Linked DNA regions of Homo sapiens: region 1 is linked to region 2. The links come from fine-mapping of genetic effects on gene expression. A gene starts in region 2. The other region holds a variant in brackets. All regions are shown on one strand. Distances are between the middles of the regions.

The links. PIP is the estimated chance that this variant, and not a neighbour inherited with it, causes the effect. A credible set is the group of variants that fine-mapping cannot tell apart.
Region 1: its variant is the best candidate, but not a certain one, in a credible set for the expression of PI3 in whole blood (TOPMed, PIP 0.54).

Annotation. Positions count from the first base shown.
Region 1 is chr20:45,260,055-45,268,649 of GRCh38, forward strand. The region is part of intron 2 of LOC105372630 (a long non-coding RNA gene); the gene reads left to right. Among named protein-coding and RNA genes, the nearest start is that of SLPI, 9.8 kb to the left of the region's middle. The variant C/T (reference allele first, on the strand shown) is at 3,535.
Region 2 is chr20:45,170,198-45,178,792 of GRCh38, forward strand. PI3 (peptidase inhibitor 3) reads left to right here and starts at 4,705. Exons shown (of 3, transcript NM_002638.4): 1 at 4,705-4,804; 2 at 5,664-5,939; 3 at 6,173-6,347. The coding sequence starts at 4,726. The coding sequence ends at 5,938. RefSeq lists an enhancer at 4,295-5,494.

The DNA of each region.
Region 1 (8,595 bases), 90 kb after region 2:
AGAATCTGGGCAAGGGTGAAAAACATCCACCATCAAAGAATTGGCAGGAGAAATTAACCAACAACGGTGGATCTCAGGTGTCTTCATACTTATTACCATGCAAGAGATGGTTGGTGTACAGATCAGGGCTCTGCACTTTATTCCTTCAAAAACTGCATGTCTGTCTCCCTAGAGGAAGGGATCCAGTTAACCTAAGGTTAAAGAAACAAAGTCTGTGGTATGTCATGAGGAAATGCTTTAGGGACCTGGTAAAACAAAAAGAAAAACAGTGCTCGGCATTAAGAAACTGCCATCATGACTACCCATGGAAGAAAACCGGGAATAGAAAAACTGGATTATTAAACTGTGGAACAGAGCTATAAGCAGCTTGGGAAAAGATGTCCCCAAATCACTAGAATCCATCTCCTTTGGTTTAGCATGTTTTGTTACATTTAAGCGTCACACAAAACTTGGTAGATACTAATGTCAAGTCAGTTTACAGATGAGAAAAAGTGAGTCTCAGAGAAACGTTCCTGTTGCAGATCAGGAGATGGTAGGGTCTTAGATGGACATGGCAGACGATGCCTGGTTGATCATTACTATGGGAGAGTTTGGTGTCTAAGCCTGGGGTCAGTGGAGAGCACCACTATGAGGACACCTCTGTGGCCCAAACAGAGCAGAGTGCCAGAAAGACCATGAAAGACTCACACTTGATAGCATCACTTCTGGCCTCTGGGACCCTGTGGTCAGCTAGAGAGGCATGACGATGATACTGGACTCAGGACACTGGGCTGGAATCCCAGCTCTGTCCAATTTGATGTAGAACCTTCCTTTCTCTGGGCCTCAGTTTCCCTATTTGTAAGATCAGTGCATTGGAACAGATGCTCTTTAGAGGCCCCAAGTCTTAGATTCTAGCTGGGTTTTTGCCTTATAGAGGACTCTCAGGACCCAGAGAGCCAACTTTCCTGAATAAAAAGCCTAGGAATAGACACCATGCATGACCCCGAACTTCACAGTGGACCAAGCACTTTTATATCCCATTTTAAAGAAAAGGAAATGGAACCTCAGAGAGTAAGCCCACTTGCCCAAGATGACACAGCAAGTCAGAGGTACAGTAAGATTCAAACCCAAGTCTTCAGAATTCAGCCACATACTGCTTCATTATGGTCCCTCCAAGACTTCTTTAGTCCTAAACCCAGAGTTGGAGATGCCTGGGATAGTAGCACTGTCCAGATAATCCTTCGGCGGAAAGTTAAAAAATGATCTTAAAGATGCAAGAAGTGAGAGTGCTGAATAAACCAAGGAGAATAGGTGCTATTTTCAGGTGCAATTTGAGCAAGGGCTCAAACTATAGCTCCCACAAGATTCTCTCCACGGCACTTCTCTTCATGTTGGCTTCATTCTTAGTCAGGCTCCCTCTTAGCATTTATAATATGGCTGTGGCATCTCCTCCCATCTTCCCAAATTCATGTCTAGTAAGGGCTTTTTCTGGGCAACTCAACTAACTAGGAGTGGCTAGAATTAAATCTTTAAACCAATGATTGGGACCAGGGAACTGGGATGTACCGATTGGTTTAAGCCAAGGCCACAATACTCATCACCATGTGTACTCATCCCCAAATCCAGTGGAATTTTCAGAGTGGGAGAGGGAATGATTCTCCTGGGGTAAATTAGGATATAGCTACCAGCAGAAGGGTGAAAGGATGCTCAGTGGTAAAAATAGCAGTGAGTGTTCTCTAAAGTATACCCCTTTTGGTTACTGAAATCTACATAACTAAATTTTTTCAAATACTTTCTAAACCAACATCTACATAAAATGCACTCAACCTCTCTCCCAAAGAAAGACAACAAAATGTCTCTCTGGGTACTATATTCATCTCCAGTTCTGCAATGTGGGTGAAAGCAGTTCTGTCAGTTAAATTTATAGTCTTCACAGATTAAGTTTAATAAGCTTAAGTAAATTTAACCACTTCAAATGCACCCAATATAGAATGGTAGATTGAGGGCGGAATGACTGCAATAAAAAGTCCTATTTGCAAAAGGGAAATATAGGAAGATATATACAAATTGTCACTGGCCCGTAATACGGATTGTACATCCTGTAAGACAGGGATGTGAGGACTTCCTACCTAATGTTGGAGTGATTTCCTTACTCAATAAATCTGAAGAATCCAGTTCTGCTGTCTGGGAGCCTCTCCTTTGCCTGTCACCTTCCATGGCTACATCTTGGAGGAGTATTGCAGAGGATGCCCTTTTGTTGGGGAAGGAAGGGCATCTGCACCTTTTCAAGAATTCACTTTATATAGGTGCAGCAGGATGTGGGGATCGACATGAACAATCAGTGGCCATTATGAGGCTTGGTTTTCATGTTTAGTTGGCTCCTGGTCCATTTGCTTCATATAAAAGCATGAACTAGTAACTATTGTCAGAAATCTCGCCGAGTCATGTTTGCCTTTTATTTATTCTGCTTTACTCCAAATATGCACTTTTAGTCTGAAGATGCATGTCTTAATTTAATCCTAAAAGAAAAAGTCCTTTCTTTATCTCTTTGAATATTACTTCTGTGCCATTCTCTCCAGTCTCTTTCTGGAACTTCCACCGGATATTTACTAGACCTTCTATTTTTATTATCGTTGTTTTGCCTTTCTCTTATATTTTTCTCTTCATCTCTCTGTGCTGGGCTCTGGGTGAATTTCTCAGTACTGGCTAAAAATTCACCAAGTTTTCTTTCAGCTGCATCCAGTCTAAACTCTACTTTATCCAATGTTTTTCCAACTTTTATTTTAGGTTCAAGGGTACATGTGCAGCTTGTTAACATGGGTAAATTGCATGTTAATATTTGATGTACAGATAACTTTGTCACCCAGGTAATACCCAATAGGTACTCTTTCAGTCCTAACCCTCCTCGAACCCTTCACTCTCAAGTAAGCCCCAATGCCTATTGTTCTCTTCTTTGTGTCCACGTGTATTCAGTGTTTAGCTCACACTTATAAGTGAGATGATGTGATACTCTGTTTTTGGTTTTTCTGTTGCTGCTTTAATTCACTTAGGATAATGGCCTCCGGCTCCATCCATGTTGCTACAAAGGACATTATTTCATTCTTTCTTATGCCTGCATAGTATTCCATGGTGTTTATGTATCACAGTTTCTTTATCCAGTCCACCATTGATGGGCATCTAGATTAATTCCATGTCTTTGCTATTTTGAATACTGCTGCAATGAATATATGCACGCATGTGTCTTCATGGTAGAACAATTTCTATTCGTTTGGGTATATATCCAGTAATGAGATTGCTGGGTCGAATGCTAGTTCTATCTAGTAAGTAATGAATTTTTATTTCAATAATCATTTATTTCCAGTATTTCTACTTGGTTTTTTTTATATGTTCATCTGGTAAATCTAAATAATGTACAGTTGTCTGCCACTTTTTTACCAAATTAGGCAGGACAACCCTTAGGCCAATTGTTAGGTATCTGCATTCTCTGAAAATTCAGCCTCATTGCTTGTTTTAAAAGACATAGAAAGAGACTTAGCATCAATAAACAATAAGCAC[C/T]TAACCATAGCTCTCTTGTTTGATGTTGTTTTTCCTCCCATGAACATAAATCAAATTATCAATCAGCAATGCCTCTATGTGCATTTATGTTTAAGGTCTTCCTCAATTAGACAGCTAACCAAGGTCATCCCCTACAAAATAAGACATACAAGTTATAAATTGGTGCATGCTGGAAAGGAATTAGCATGATTTGCAAACCTAGAGTGTGCCTTAAGATTTTCCCATAGAAAATGGAGGCAATTATATCTCTATTCTGGTGTCTGTAATCCTAGCACTTTGGGAGGCCAAGGTGGGAGGATCGTTTGAGCCCAGTATTTCAAGACCAGCCTGGGCAAAATAGCGAGACCCCATCTCTAAAGAAAAATAAAAGAAAAAAATAAAAATTTAAAAGAAAAAAAATCACTTGTGGAGACAGGGCAAGGAGAAGCTGAGAAAGGAATAAAAACATGGGAGGGGCAGCATGTCCAGTCATCCCTGTTGGTCTAAGAGCAGCAATGCACTTCAAGGGAGAGGCTGGGTGTCCACCTCCTTCTTTTACCAGAAGGCTTGAATTCCCTTGGCTCGAATTTTGCCATTTGTGCAGGTTGGATTCTTCTTAGCAATTCTGGAGAGACTGAGAAAGGTGGTTGCCCTCAGAAAAAAACAGTACAAAGAAGAGTTAGAGAACTCATGGATGGGGAGAGCTGGGATCTGGGGCAACAGCAGCAAATGTCTGAACCAGAAGTAGAAGCCAAGAAAATTCAGTGGTGGCAGGAGCATTCGAAACCTCCCCTCCCAAGAAATGATTTGTGACAGTGTCGGATTGAAGACCAAGATGTTTCTCACATTTTTCCCCCACGGGCTGGCATATCTCCCCAAAGGGAGACATCCATTTACTCAAGGACCAACAAAAAAGAAGCCATGACTTGTCACTAAGGAAGTTGTGGGCCTTGATAAGACATATTAAAAAAAGAACATGGCCTCTGTGGCGGTTGAACATGTGTTTGCTTTGTAATTGTTCATTAAATCTTACTCTTATTTTATGTGCTTTTCCTAATGCATGTTTTGTTTTACAATTTTAAAGTGTTGGGAGAAAGAATGAGTATTGGAAATTAGGCAATTGTCAGCAATGCTGGAACCTACAGGGGAGGCCAAGAGGAGAAAGAAAAATGACCTATCAAACTCTAGAACAAGGAGGATGCAGACCCCCAATTCCACAGCCTGGACTAACATCTCCCAAATTATCCTATATCCTTTCGCTTGATCTCAGTGACATTCATTAAAAGATCACAGACTTTGGAATCAGACTGACCAGCTTTTAAATCCTGTCTTTCCCACTTAATAAATATGTTCCCTTTGATAATTCTGATACTTGTGGCTAATAATTACTGAGCATCTTTTTTATGCTGGACACTGTGCTAAAGGCTTTGCATGCTTTTTCACATTTAAACCTATAACAATGAATAAAGCAGGTAGTACAGTATCCAATTTTACAAACAGGAAAAATAAGGCTCAGAGTCGGCCTCCTATACAAGGTGACAGGAGGAAGGAATGCTTTGGGTGAATTTGATAGGGGCTGTCTAAGGAATAATGCTTCTTACCCAGGCCTGAAGAGCAGCCATGATTCCCTGTGCCCAAAGCTGGGGTAAGGAGAGAGAACCACTGAGGGTCAACTCTTCAGTTCATGCAACTGATGTGCCTGCTGTACAGATGGTGCGTGAGCTCCAGATAGAAGCATCAGTTAGCATAAACTGTCTCTGGTGTCATCTTGATTAAAAATAGGACAATCTCCAATTTTATAAACACATTTTTAAAGTTGTATTTTCCACATTTAAGTCGTTAATCCATCTGGAATTTATTTTTGTGAAAGGTTTAAGTAGAGACTTTGTTTGATTTTTTTTCCAATATGGAATGCCAATTGTTCCCTATATCATTGATCCCCCTTTTGATCATAAAACTGTATTAATTTTGTACCAGTTTTCATATGTGGATGGATGCACTCTACTAGGTTTTCTTACTCAATTTGTTCACTCCCAGACCAATACCATACTCCTTTAATTTGCATCTATATTTTTTATAACCTGGTGCTTCGCAGTAGAAGTCTTTTCTGTTTTGCTTGTTTAGAATTGTTTTGGCTATCCCTGTGCTTTTACTCTACCATGTAAACTTTAGGGTCAATTTGACAAGGTCCTTAAAAACTCTGTTGAATTTTTATTATGATTGCATCCATGCTATAAATTACCTGGAAGAGCCAAAATATTTACCATAGTAAGTCTTCCCAAGTATAAAAAAATAAGTCTCACTCTATTTATTCAAGGCCTCTTCAAGTCTTTTAATAAAATTTTATTTTCATCATATAATTTTTCCAGGTAATCATAAATTTTATGGCTGTTGTGAATAGTTTACCCATTGATTCTCTTGGATTTCATCCTGAGACAATCATATCATTTGTAAACACTCACAATTTTATCTCTCCCTTTCCAATCCTTATACCTCTTTATTTTTATGTCCAATTTTATTGCATTGGCCTAAGATCACTAATATGAGATTGACTGAAAATGGAGATGGGAGAAATTCTGCCCTTGTACCTGTCTTTAAGGATGCCATTTCTAAAGTGTCATCACTGAGTATATTTGCTGCGACTGTTGGTAAATACCTTTTACCAGATTAGTTATGTTCACTTTTGTTCCTGGTCTAGGGTGTTTCTATTTTTATTACACATGAATGTAGAATACAATATAGAATGATTTTTATGAAACTATTTAGAGACTCATTTGGGTCATCTTTAAACTTTTAATTTGCTTAATCCCCTTGATAGATTTTCTGTTCTTGAACTATCTTTGCATATCTGTTTATTTATTTATTTATTATATTTATTATAGGGATACCCTACTATTATAATAAATGTCCTAGCATGTATTATACTTGTCACTTTGAAATATTTCAAATGTATGGAAAAAAATGGGAAGAACAGTACAAAGAACTACCATATTCCCTTCACCCAGATTCACTAAATATTAACATTTTGCCACATTTGTTTTATCATTCTTTCTCTTTTGTGTGTGTGAGAGAATAGAATGTTTTATTCCAACCATTGAGAATAAGTTGTATACATTATGCTCCTCTGTCCATGAATACTTCAGTGTGTATTCGCTATGAATAAGGACACCTTTATATAACCACAGTACAGTTATCAACTTCAAAAAATTCAACACTGACAAAAAATCCCAACATTTTGGATTTTCCCATGTATTCTCATAAGAAAAAAGAGTCTAGTTTCTTAAACTCTGATTATGATATAAACACACAATATCAAAGATAAGCACCACAAAAGTTTCCATCCGTGCTTTCCCTTCTTTTAGTCTCTGAAATCATTTGGGATAGAAATTGTCTTTCTTGTAGGTTTGGTAAAAAATGAATACATTTCATATTATTTCCCATTTTAAAAGAAGAGATTTAATTACCAAGTGAAAACCTCTTAACTTGTTTTCTTTTATAAAAGGAGAAATTTAATTACCATTTTAAATTCTTTAATGATTAGAGGTTTGTTCAGGTTTCAAATTTCTTCCTGGAACCAGAAAGGACAAAGAGAGGAGAGGAAACTGGTCATGCCTGGTAACCACTGAAGCAATTCATTTCAGACCTGTGTTACAACTCCTGATAAATGAAATCAAAGAGGATCACACTCATGTGTGTGTGATTTCTGAATAGTGCCCCAAAGAAAGTGCTAAACCTGACCAACAACAGCAACATTCTCAATAGGAGGTGGAGTGAGGATTGGTGCCACAAGGAACCTGGAGCTGATCCTAAAGGAAAATAAATATCTACTAGTTGTTGACCGATGTCACTGTGCACTTCTCTCACAAACAATGCCTTTATTCCTCACCACCATACAAAAAAGGAATTAATATTAACCCCATACATACATGGTAAAATTGACGCTCAGAAGGATGAATTCCCGAGCAATTTGGACATAACTCACACAATTATGATTTAAGATATGATCTGTCTCACTCAAAATCCACTATTCTTTCCACTCCACATGCTGAGAGCAAGGCCACAAATCCCACCACCTCTCTCACTTCTCTCCTTTCCTCCCATCATCCCCCATGTCCTAGACCATGGGCCAGGTACAGTGGCTCATGCCTGTAATCCCAATGCTTTGGGAGACCGAGGCGGGAGAATCACTTGAGGCTAGGAGTAACATAGGCTGGTCTTGAACCAGCCTATGAGACCTCATCTCAAAAAGAAAAAAAGAAAAAGAAAGAAAGGATGGAAGGAAAGAAGGAAGGAAGGGAGGGAGGGAGGGAAAGAAAGAAAGAGAAAAAAGAAAGAAAGAAAGAAAGAGAAAAAGAAAGAAAGAGAAAGAAAGAAAGAAAGAAAGAAAGAAAGAAAGAAAGAAAGAAAGAAAGAAAGAAAGAGAGAAAGAAAGAAAGAAAGAAAGAGAGAAAGAAAGGGAAAGGAAAGGAAAGGAAAGGAAAGGAAAGGAAAGGAAAGGAAAGGAAAGGAAAGGAAAGGAAAGGAAAGGAAAGGAAAGTCAGGTGTGATTATATGCACCTGTAGTCCTAGCTACTTGAGAGGCTGAGGCAGGAGACCCCCTTCAACCGAGGAGTTCAAGGTTACAGGGAGCTATGACTGCACCATTGCACTTCAGCATGGGCAACAGAGTAAGACTCTGTCTCTTAAAAGTAAACAGATAAATAAATAAATATATTGAGTCTAACAGGGTGGGAAAACACTTAGATAATCTCTAGAGAGACTCTGACTATACTAGTCTAGGCTTGACTCGTCAGCCATCTCATGCCCATTCCCAACCCACCCAGAGATCCCGCAAACCTGGGAGATCCTAACAAACCATTTTTTAAATGAAGAGAAGAGACTATGGCAGAATCTACAGACTGATGCAATCCACATCCATTTCAACCATTTTTTATGTATCTCTCTATAGTGCAGAGGCTACAATGTTAAAAGCTACATTCTCCAGACCCCCTGAAGGTAGGGTCGGCTGTCATTTATGTTTCACCAGTCAGATGCACTCTCACAAGGGTTGAACCAAGGCTAAGTTAGAGGAAAGCAGAGTGT
Region 2 (8,595 bases):
GCAAAAGAAACTATCAGCACAGTAAACCAACAACCTACAGAATAGAAGAAAATATTTGTGAGCTATGTGTCCAACAAAGGTCTAATATCCAGAATCTATAAGGAACTTAAACCAGTTAACAAGCAAAAAACAGACAACCCCATTAGAAAGTGGGCAAAGGACATGAACAGAAACTTCTCAAAAGAAAACATACATGTTGCCAACAAACAAATGAAAAAATGCTCAACATCACAGATCATTAGAGAAATGAAAATCCAAACAGTAATTGAGATAGCATCTCACACCAGTCGTTATAACATAACATATGCTGTCAAGGTTGTAGAGAAAAGGGAACATTTATACACTGCTGGTAGGAATGTAAATTAGTTCAGCCAGCATGGAAAGCAGTATGGCAATTTCTCAAAGAACTTAAAACAGAATTACCATTCAACCCAAGATATTCCATTAATGGTTATATACCCAAAGGAATATAAATCATTCTATCATAAAGACACATCCATGTAGTATGTGAATCACAGAACTATTCACAGTATCAAAGACATAGAATCAACCTAATTGCTCATCAATGATAGACTGGATAAAGAAAATGTGGTATGTAAACACCATAGAATACTACGAGTCATAAAAAAGAACAAGATCATGTCCTTTGCAGCAACATGGATGGAGCTGGAGGCCATTATCCTAAGCAAACTTTCACAAGAACAGAAAAGAAAATACCACATTTTCTCACGTATAAATGAAAACTGAACATTGAGTACATATGGACACAAAGAAGGGAACAATGGACACTAGGGCCTACTTGAGGGTAGAGAATGGGAGGAGCGTGAGGATCAAAACACGAATCGAGTACTATGCTGATTACCTGGTGATGAAATACTTCTGCACACGAACCCCCCCATGACATGAAATTTACCTATACAACAAACCTGCACATGTACCCCTGAAACTAAAATAAAAGTTAAAAATAAAACCCCAAAATTAGACACACAGTCTGTTCATGAGGCTTGATGGAAACAGCAGGCAAGTTTATCCACTACTGGTGGGATTACAATATGGTACAACCCCTATCAAGGGAAATATGGCAATATTATCAAAATTTCAAATGCATTTCACCTTTGTATAAGCAAATATACTTCTGGGAATCTGGTTCACAAGAAAGCAAGCTAAGAAAGGCCACATGTGGTATAGTTTGTAATGGCAAAATATTGGAAACAACTTGCGAGGGTAGCAATGTGGGTTTATTGAAAGCTAAGGTAGTCTATAAATGATTCGCTCTGCAGCTTTCTCTCTCTCTCTCTCTCTCCAAGCAATCAAAGAACTAGAACATTACTAATAACCAACAACTTAAATCAACCCGTGTCCTTCTCACCCATCCAGAATGTTTTCTTCTCTCGTTTCCAGAGTTAGCCACTATCTTGTATGTCATTTTTATAGTTTTTTCATTTTTTATGTATCCCTTTTTGAGCTTTGCTTCATATGTAAATATGCCTAGGCAATATATTTCCCAGTTCTCCTTCATTTGAGTTTTATGACAAGTGGGTAATTCTAAATATTGTCACTGTGGACTTGTGTTGTTTATTCAACATTATTTTAATTATGGTCATATTGTGCATGGCTGTAATTCAGTTATTTTCATAATTGTATAATACTTCCTTGCATTAATATGTCATGACATATTTATGCATTAATATGTCATGACATATTTATCCAGTATTTTAGTATTGGTAACATGGACTGTTTCCAGTATGTTATTGTTAAAAACAGTACTTTTATGAACATTATTGTGCATGTTTCTTGGTAAACATGTGGAAATATTTTCCTTAATTAAATCTTTAGGAGTGCAATTGCTGAATTATAGATTGTGTACACATTCAATTTTACTAGCTGATGTCAAACTGTTTTTAAATGTTTCACCAATATAGACTCTCATTAGTAATGCATAAAAGTTTCTTTTCTACTACAAATCAATAAGAAAAGATAAACAACCCATTCAAATCTAAAATAAAAGTTGAAATTAAATAAATAAGTAAATAAAAGGTAAGATACTTGAATTGGCACTTCACAAAAGAGGATAGCCAAATGGATAATAGAAATATTAAAAATGGGCCGGGTGCAGTGGCTCATGTCTGTAATCCTAGCACTTTGGGAGGCCAAGGCAGGTGCATCATCTGAGGTCAGCGGTTCGAGACAAGCCTGACCAACATGGTGAAACTGCAAAATATAAAAATTAGCTGGGCATGGTGGCATGTGCCTGTAATCCCAGCTACTTGGGAGGCTGAGGCAAGAGAATCACTTGAACCTGGGAGGTGGAGGTTGCAGTGAGCTGAGATTGTGCCATTGAACTCCAGCCTGGGTGACAAGAGCGAAATTCCATCTCAAAAAAAAAAAAAAAAAAAAAAGGAGTATTAAAAATGGGTCAGCTTCACCAGTTATTAGGAAAGTGTAAATTCAAATCACAGGAAATCCCACAAGATGTCCACCTGAATGGCTAATGAAAAGGCAAATCATATGAGGCATTGGTGAGATTATGGAGCAAATGGAATGCTCACACATTGCTGATAGCAGTGTGAATTGGTACAATGATGTTGGAAAATTGATTGCAGTATTTATGACAGCTGGATGTATCTATACTCTGTGATCTGTACTCTGTGATCCAGCAATTCCATTCCTAACCATATATCCAAAATAAATGCATACCTATGTTCTGCAAGAGATATGTACAAGAATATTCATAGCAACACTATAATAGCTAAAACCTAGAAATATCCAATGTATATTGACAGTAGAATGAATATATAACATTTTTGGTATTTTTCATAGAATACTGTACAGCAGTGAAAATGATGAACTACAGGTGTAGACTTCAAAATGGATGACTCTCAAAAATATAATGTTGAGCAACATAAGCAGGACATATGAACACTATACCTTAGATTTCATTTACATACAAATTGAAAAAGTATACTAAACTGAATATATATTTCAGAATACAGACAGAAGTGGCATAACTATAAAGGAAAGCAAGGGCTAATTACCATAAAATCTTAGGAAGCAGTTATCTCTGGGGAGGAAGGAGAATGAAGCAACTGAGGAGAGGCATGGAGCATAGATATAGCAAATATTCTCCTCCTTTACCTGGCAGCTCATTTTAATGCTATTCTTTAAAGAATATAGGTATTTTCTGTGAGCTTTTTATTTGTTTGTATGGCTTATTGTACAATGAGCTTTTGTGTAAGGTAGCCAAAGGCTTCCACAGTCTGACATTCGTTTATGTCTCCCTCAGTTTCAGGCTTGGTGGGCATGTGGTCAGAGTCTAAATCGACAAGGGGTGGGGATTTCACCAGCTGAATTAGTGTCCAATAATTAGTTTGTTACCTTCCCTGCCTTAACTCCACCTCAACTCAGTGACTTTCTTAACTCAGATTCTGTCCCTGACAATACCCAACTTCAGGATATTCATTTCTATTACTCAGAACTTTTGGTAACAATGACAGAATAGTAAGTCAGACTAGCTGAAGCAGAGGGCTAATTTATTGCCTCATAACCCAACCATGAGAAGGGTGTGTGAAGAACTGCTCTCAAGGTAAAGGAGGGAAACCTGGCTGTGTCATCTGAATCTTCTCTCACCATCACTTCTCTCCTTGTCTCAGTGTATTAGAGTCGTTTTTCTCAGACAATTGATCTCCACCCCCAGACTTAGATAACCACTTCTGGAATTCCCTGGTTCATATATATCACCTTTTCCAGAAGAAGGAACCCCCGTTTTCCCCTTTCATTACTCATTCAAATAAAATATGTTAATAGACCAGACCAAGTCTCACACACAACACACACACACACACTCACACACACACACACACACACACACCCCTACCTGTGGTCAGGGGTCAGGCTTTCATGATTAGCAGTCCCCATTAGACTCACAAGTTGATGGTTCAAAGAGACAACAATTCTTCACAAGAAACAGGGTGCTGTTCAAAGAAGTGGGGAGGCATGCTGGACACACACACTGTAGATGTCCAATGTATACATGATACATGTTTTCTACTACTTTCTGATTATTTTCTCCCTACCACTGTGATTTCAAGGGCATCATCCCTCTTCAGACCTAGAATTCCACCTTCCAATTACTTTCTTGATGCATCTGAAAGGCCGTCTCTGAAACAGCAAAGTGCAATAATTAGTCATTATGTATTCAAGGCAAATTTGTCTTACAGAGTTTTTTGCAGGACCAGGGAAGAAGGAAGGAAATGCCCAGTTTGATGCTGGGAGTGGTAAAATGATAAAGTAGATCTGGGTGGGGTTTGTAGCACCAGAGCATAATGGAGAAACACCTTGGTTTTGTAATCAAGACTGGATCTACCAGTGACTTGCTGAATAACCTTCGGTGATTCCTTTCTCTTCTTGGGTCTCACTGTATTTCAAAACATGAAGAATTTCATTGTAATGTTACCTAATAAGTGAGCCAGCACTTCTACTCTGTGAGAAAGTAGGAAAACTCTTGGGACAATCAGAGATGATGTGATGTAATGTCCATTAGTTCTTCCTGTGAATAATCCTGAGGGAAAGCCCCCAGGTCCCTCCCAGAATGGGGTGGATATTTCCCAATACAGCTAAGGAATTATCCCTTGTAAATACCACAGACCCGCCCCTGGAGCCAGGCCAAGCTGGACTGCATAAAGATTGGTATGGCCTTAGCTCTTAGCCAAACACCTTCCTGACACCATGAGGGCCAGCAGCTTCTTGATCGTGGTGGTGTTCCTCATCGCTGGGACGCTGGTTCTAGAGGCAGCTGTCACGGGAGGTGAGTGAACAGGTGACCTGCTGGGCTGGGTTGGACTAAGGGGAGACCCTCTGGGACACCCTGGGCCAGGACAGGGAGCACTTCTGAAGCAGTAGGCAGCACTGGAGCCCAGATTTCAGCTTTCTGTTCTTTGCCATCATATTCAGAAAAAATAGGACTTTGGCTGGTGGACTCCACGTGCTTTCCACCTCAGTGACTGAGATATCAGGACTGTTTGTGGAAGTAATGTTGGTATGTGGCCTTGGCCTCAGATGTCAATACCTGTGCAGAATGTGCAATAAAATAATGAACTCCAGGATTTTAAACCTTGGGTGTGGACACAGTCCCCCGTTTCTCTGCCCCATAAAAGCACTGGAGTAATCAGTACTCTAAAAGGAGGTTAAGAAACAACAAGCCTTCAGGAATCATGTTGTTTGAGGACCCCCATTTTATAAGGAGGGAACCAAAAATGTAGAAATGAGTGAGCAATTGCCAAGGTAATTCCCAGAGCCAGGATGGGGCTCAAGTCTCCTAGTATGTGGCTCAGGGTTCTTTCCTACTCCAATGCACTTCCTAACAAATGACAATGTGTCCTCTTCACTGCTGGGTGTCACCCCAGTCTGACCACTGCTCCTGAGAGACTTGGAGTGGAGGAAGGGGGAAGAAACAAATACTCAAGGGAACTCTGGTCCAGTAGACCACCCCAAAAAAGGAAGAGCCTTCCAAGAGTGTAGCTCCCAGAGGTGTACCTTCCCTACTCAGGCCATGGTTTGAGGATGCTGCAGTAAGCAGTGGATGGACCCAGACCCAGAGGAAAGACATGGCAGCTGAAGCAGAGGCTTACTGGGTATAAATGTGGGCTCGTTTCTTCTTTTAACAGTTCCTGTTAAAGGTCAAGACACTGTCAAAGGCCGTGTTCCATTCAATGGACAAGATCCCGTTAAAGGACAAGTTTCAGTTAAAGGTCAAGATAAAGTCAAAGCGCAAGAGCCAGTCAAAGGTCCAGTCTCCACTAAGCCTGGCTCCTGCCCCATTATCTTGATCCGGTGCGCCATGTTGAATCCCCCTAACCGCTGCTTGAAAGATACTGACTGCCCAGGAATCAAGAAGTGCTGTGAAGGCTCTTGCGGGATGGCCTGTTTCGTTCCCCAGTGAGGTGAGCACTAGCTGGAGAACGAGGAGACCCCTGAAGACACAAAAGAAGGCTGAGCGGTGGGGAAGCATCCCAGGTTGGTGGGAGGGAGGTTGTGGGAGGTGACAGAAAGACTGGGAGACTGAGGGGTCTGAGAGGCTATAACCAGAGTGCCTAGAAGGATGATCTGTCTTCCTCACTGCCTCTGAGTGCTTTGATGTGCTGACTCTCACCTCTGATACTCTTCTCTTCCACAGAGGGAGCCGGTCCTTGCTGCACCTGTGCCGTCCCCAGAGCTACAGGCCCCATCTGGTCCTAAGTCCCTGCTGCCCTTCCCCTTCCCACACTGTCCATTCTTCCTCCCATTCAGGATGCCCACGGCTGGAGCTGCCTCTCTCATCCACTTTCCAATAAAGAGTTCCTTCTGCTCCACTTGTTTCTGGTTCCTATGACTTCTGGGCTCCTGGATGCTTTGGGGAAATGGATGTAGAATTGGGACTTCTTCTCTCCAGTGAAGAGGGGAAACGGTCCCATGGTGAAAGAGAGCAGGGCGGGGGGAGGAAACAGGAGGCACATTGCTAGGGCTTCATATTACAAATCCAATAATCAGCCCCAGTGCTGCCAGCTCCTTTTCACCAGGAAATGGAAATATGGAAATCTTGCCTTTGGCCAAGGACCAGGAAAAACACAAAACACAAAAAATAAATAAACATTACATAAACCATAAGCAGGTCTTTTTTTTCCAATCCACCATCAGTCCTGACCTGGCTACTGTCGGCCTTACCAGTGTGACCAGCCAACCCTTATGGCTGCAACTACAGCTCCCCACTTCCTTCTCATTAATGTTTCCCAGGAATCTATATCTTTTCAACACCACATAGAAAGGATGATGTTACAGATGCTGCGAAACTCCTGCTCTTTAGAATTTCACTGGTTTATGCCTGAGATTCCTCCATGAAGTAGCATTCCTTTAGGTTAAGCAATATTCTCTTCCAGATTTCTGTTTTAAGATGTGAATGAGGAGGCAAGATACACTAAGTCCTTCATACTATGGTGTCAGAGGTTTGGGTGAATAGCATTCTCTGGAGACATACATGTTGGGGGCAGGGCAGACTTGAGTAGTGGAGAAAGGGGCAGGAATATGAGCAACCTCATGGCTCTCCTGTTGACCCACTCGTCCCACTGCGATTGCACAAGGAAACTCTCAGAGAAGGCCACAGCCCCCAGGAGGGGAGCAGCCTGGGTGAAGGGGAATAAGCACAGGCTTGACAGTCAGGTGATCTCAGCACTGGCTTTGCCTCCCCACGTATTGGGTGACCTCTGGCAAATGTATGTCCCCCTTCCAGGCCTCAGAGGTCTATTTCAGTTGAGGGGGTAAGGTATAATTATTCTGCAAAGGAAGGTCTAATCCTGCCACTCTGGGATATGAAACAGCTCTTCTTTGTGTATTGGGTTCTTGCTCTGAGATGACATGGGGAGCAGAGGCTTGGGGTGAGACAATGTGGATCCCTGCACCACTTTGCCCCATCCACGAGCATCTGAGCCATGATTTTTCCCTATTGTTCAGAGGCTAGTCCGAACAACTGTAGGGCTTTGACACTAGGGTGTCTTGGAGTACAGGTGACAGCAGTACCCAAACTTCTGGCTTGACAAATACAAAATACATCATTGGAGGAAATAATGGTTTCTGTTTTTTAATATTTACTCTATTTCCTATACCTAGTAGATTACATGTATTGTCACTTATTTTTCATAAGTCCCTTTCAGATGGCCATTATACATATTTTATTTTCTAATTTTGTAAAAAGATTGAAGCTAAGAGAGATTAAGTAACCATTAAAAGCCACAAGGTTAGTAAGTGATAGTAAATGATATTTTTATTATATGCTAGCAACAATCAGTTAGACATGCTGCATTTTCTATTATTAATATCAACAAAATCACACCATTGCTATAAATAAACAAGAGAGAGGCAGAGCTTTAGAAGAGAAATCTATGTAACTTTTCAGAGGCATATAAAAATGCTTGAATATACACATACTCACAATACATGAATATGCACATATCACAATACATGAAGACTATGTGGTGAAGATGTCACTATTTACTCAATATTTAATATTTATTTAATTTATCCCTAAGGTGTATTATACCCAAAATCCATTTTTAATATGGTGTGGTTATGGAGGTTAAGGGAACTTGAAACCATACTTAAGTTTATGGGGAAGCATAAATTCTTGTGAATAGGCGTAGATGTTTACAAATGAAGATTAACCCTAGGGCTCTGGAACCTCCTAGACTTAAAAAAAAGTTTTGCAAAGTAACAATAATCAATATGTTGTTTTTATTAGAAGAATAGTCAGGTTGAGAAATCAATAGAAAACAAAAGAAAACCCAGAATCAGGCCTCATTATATCTAATTCAGGTAAAGATCAATGTCAAGTTCCAAAACAATGAAGAAAACTTGAATTTTTTAAGAAACAAGATTCAGACGGTAGGTTCACTATTTGCAAAAACAAAAGAACTAACTCTGGTCTGAATTCAGGCAAAGATTAAGCCACTGAGAGAGAAAAATTGAAAGGTTCCAAAAAGACACTTTCTTTTCGCTCAGGAAGCAGGCCAGGATGACAGTCCATGCCTAGCAAGGTAGCTGAGCAACTCAAGATCTCACAGAGACCAG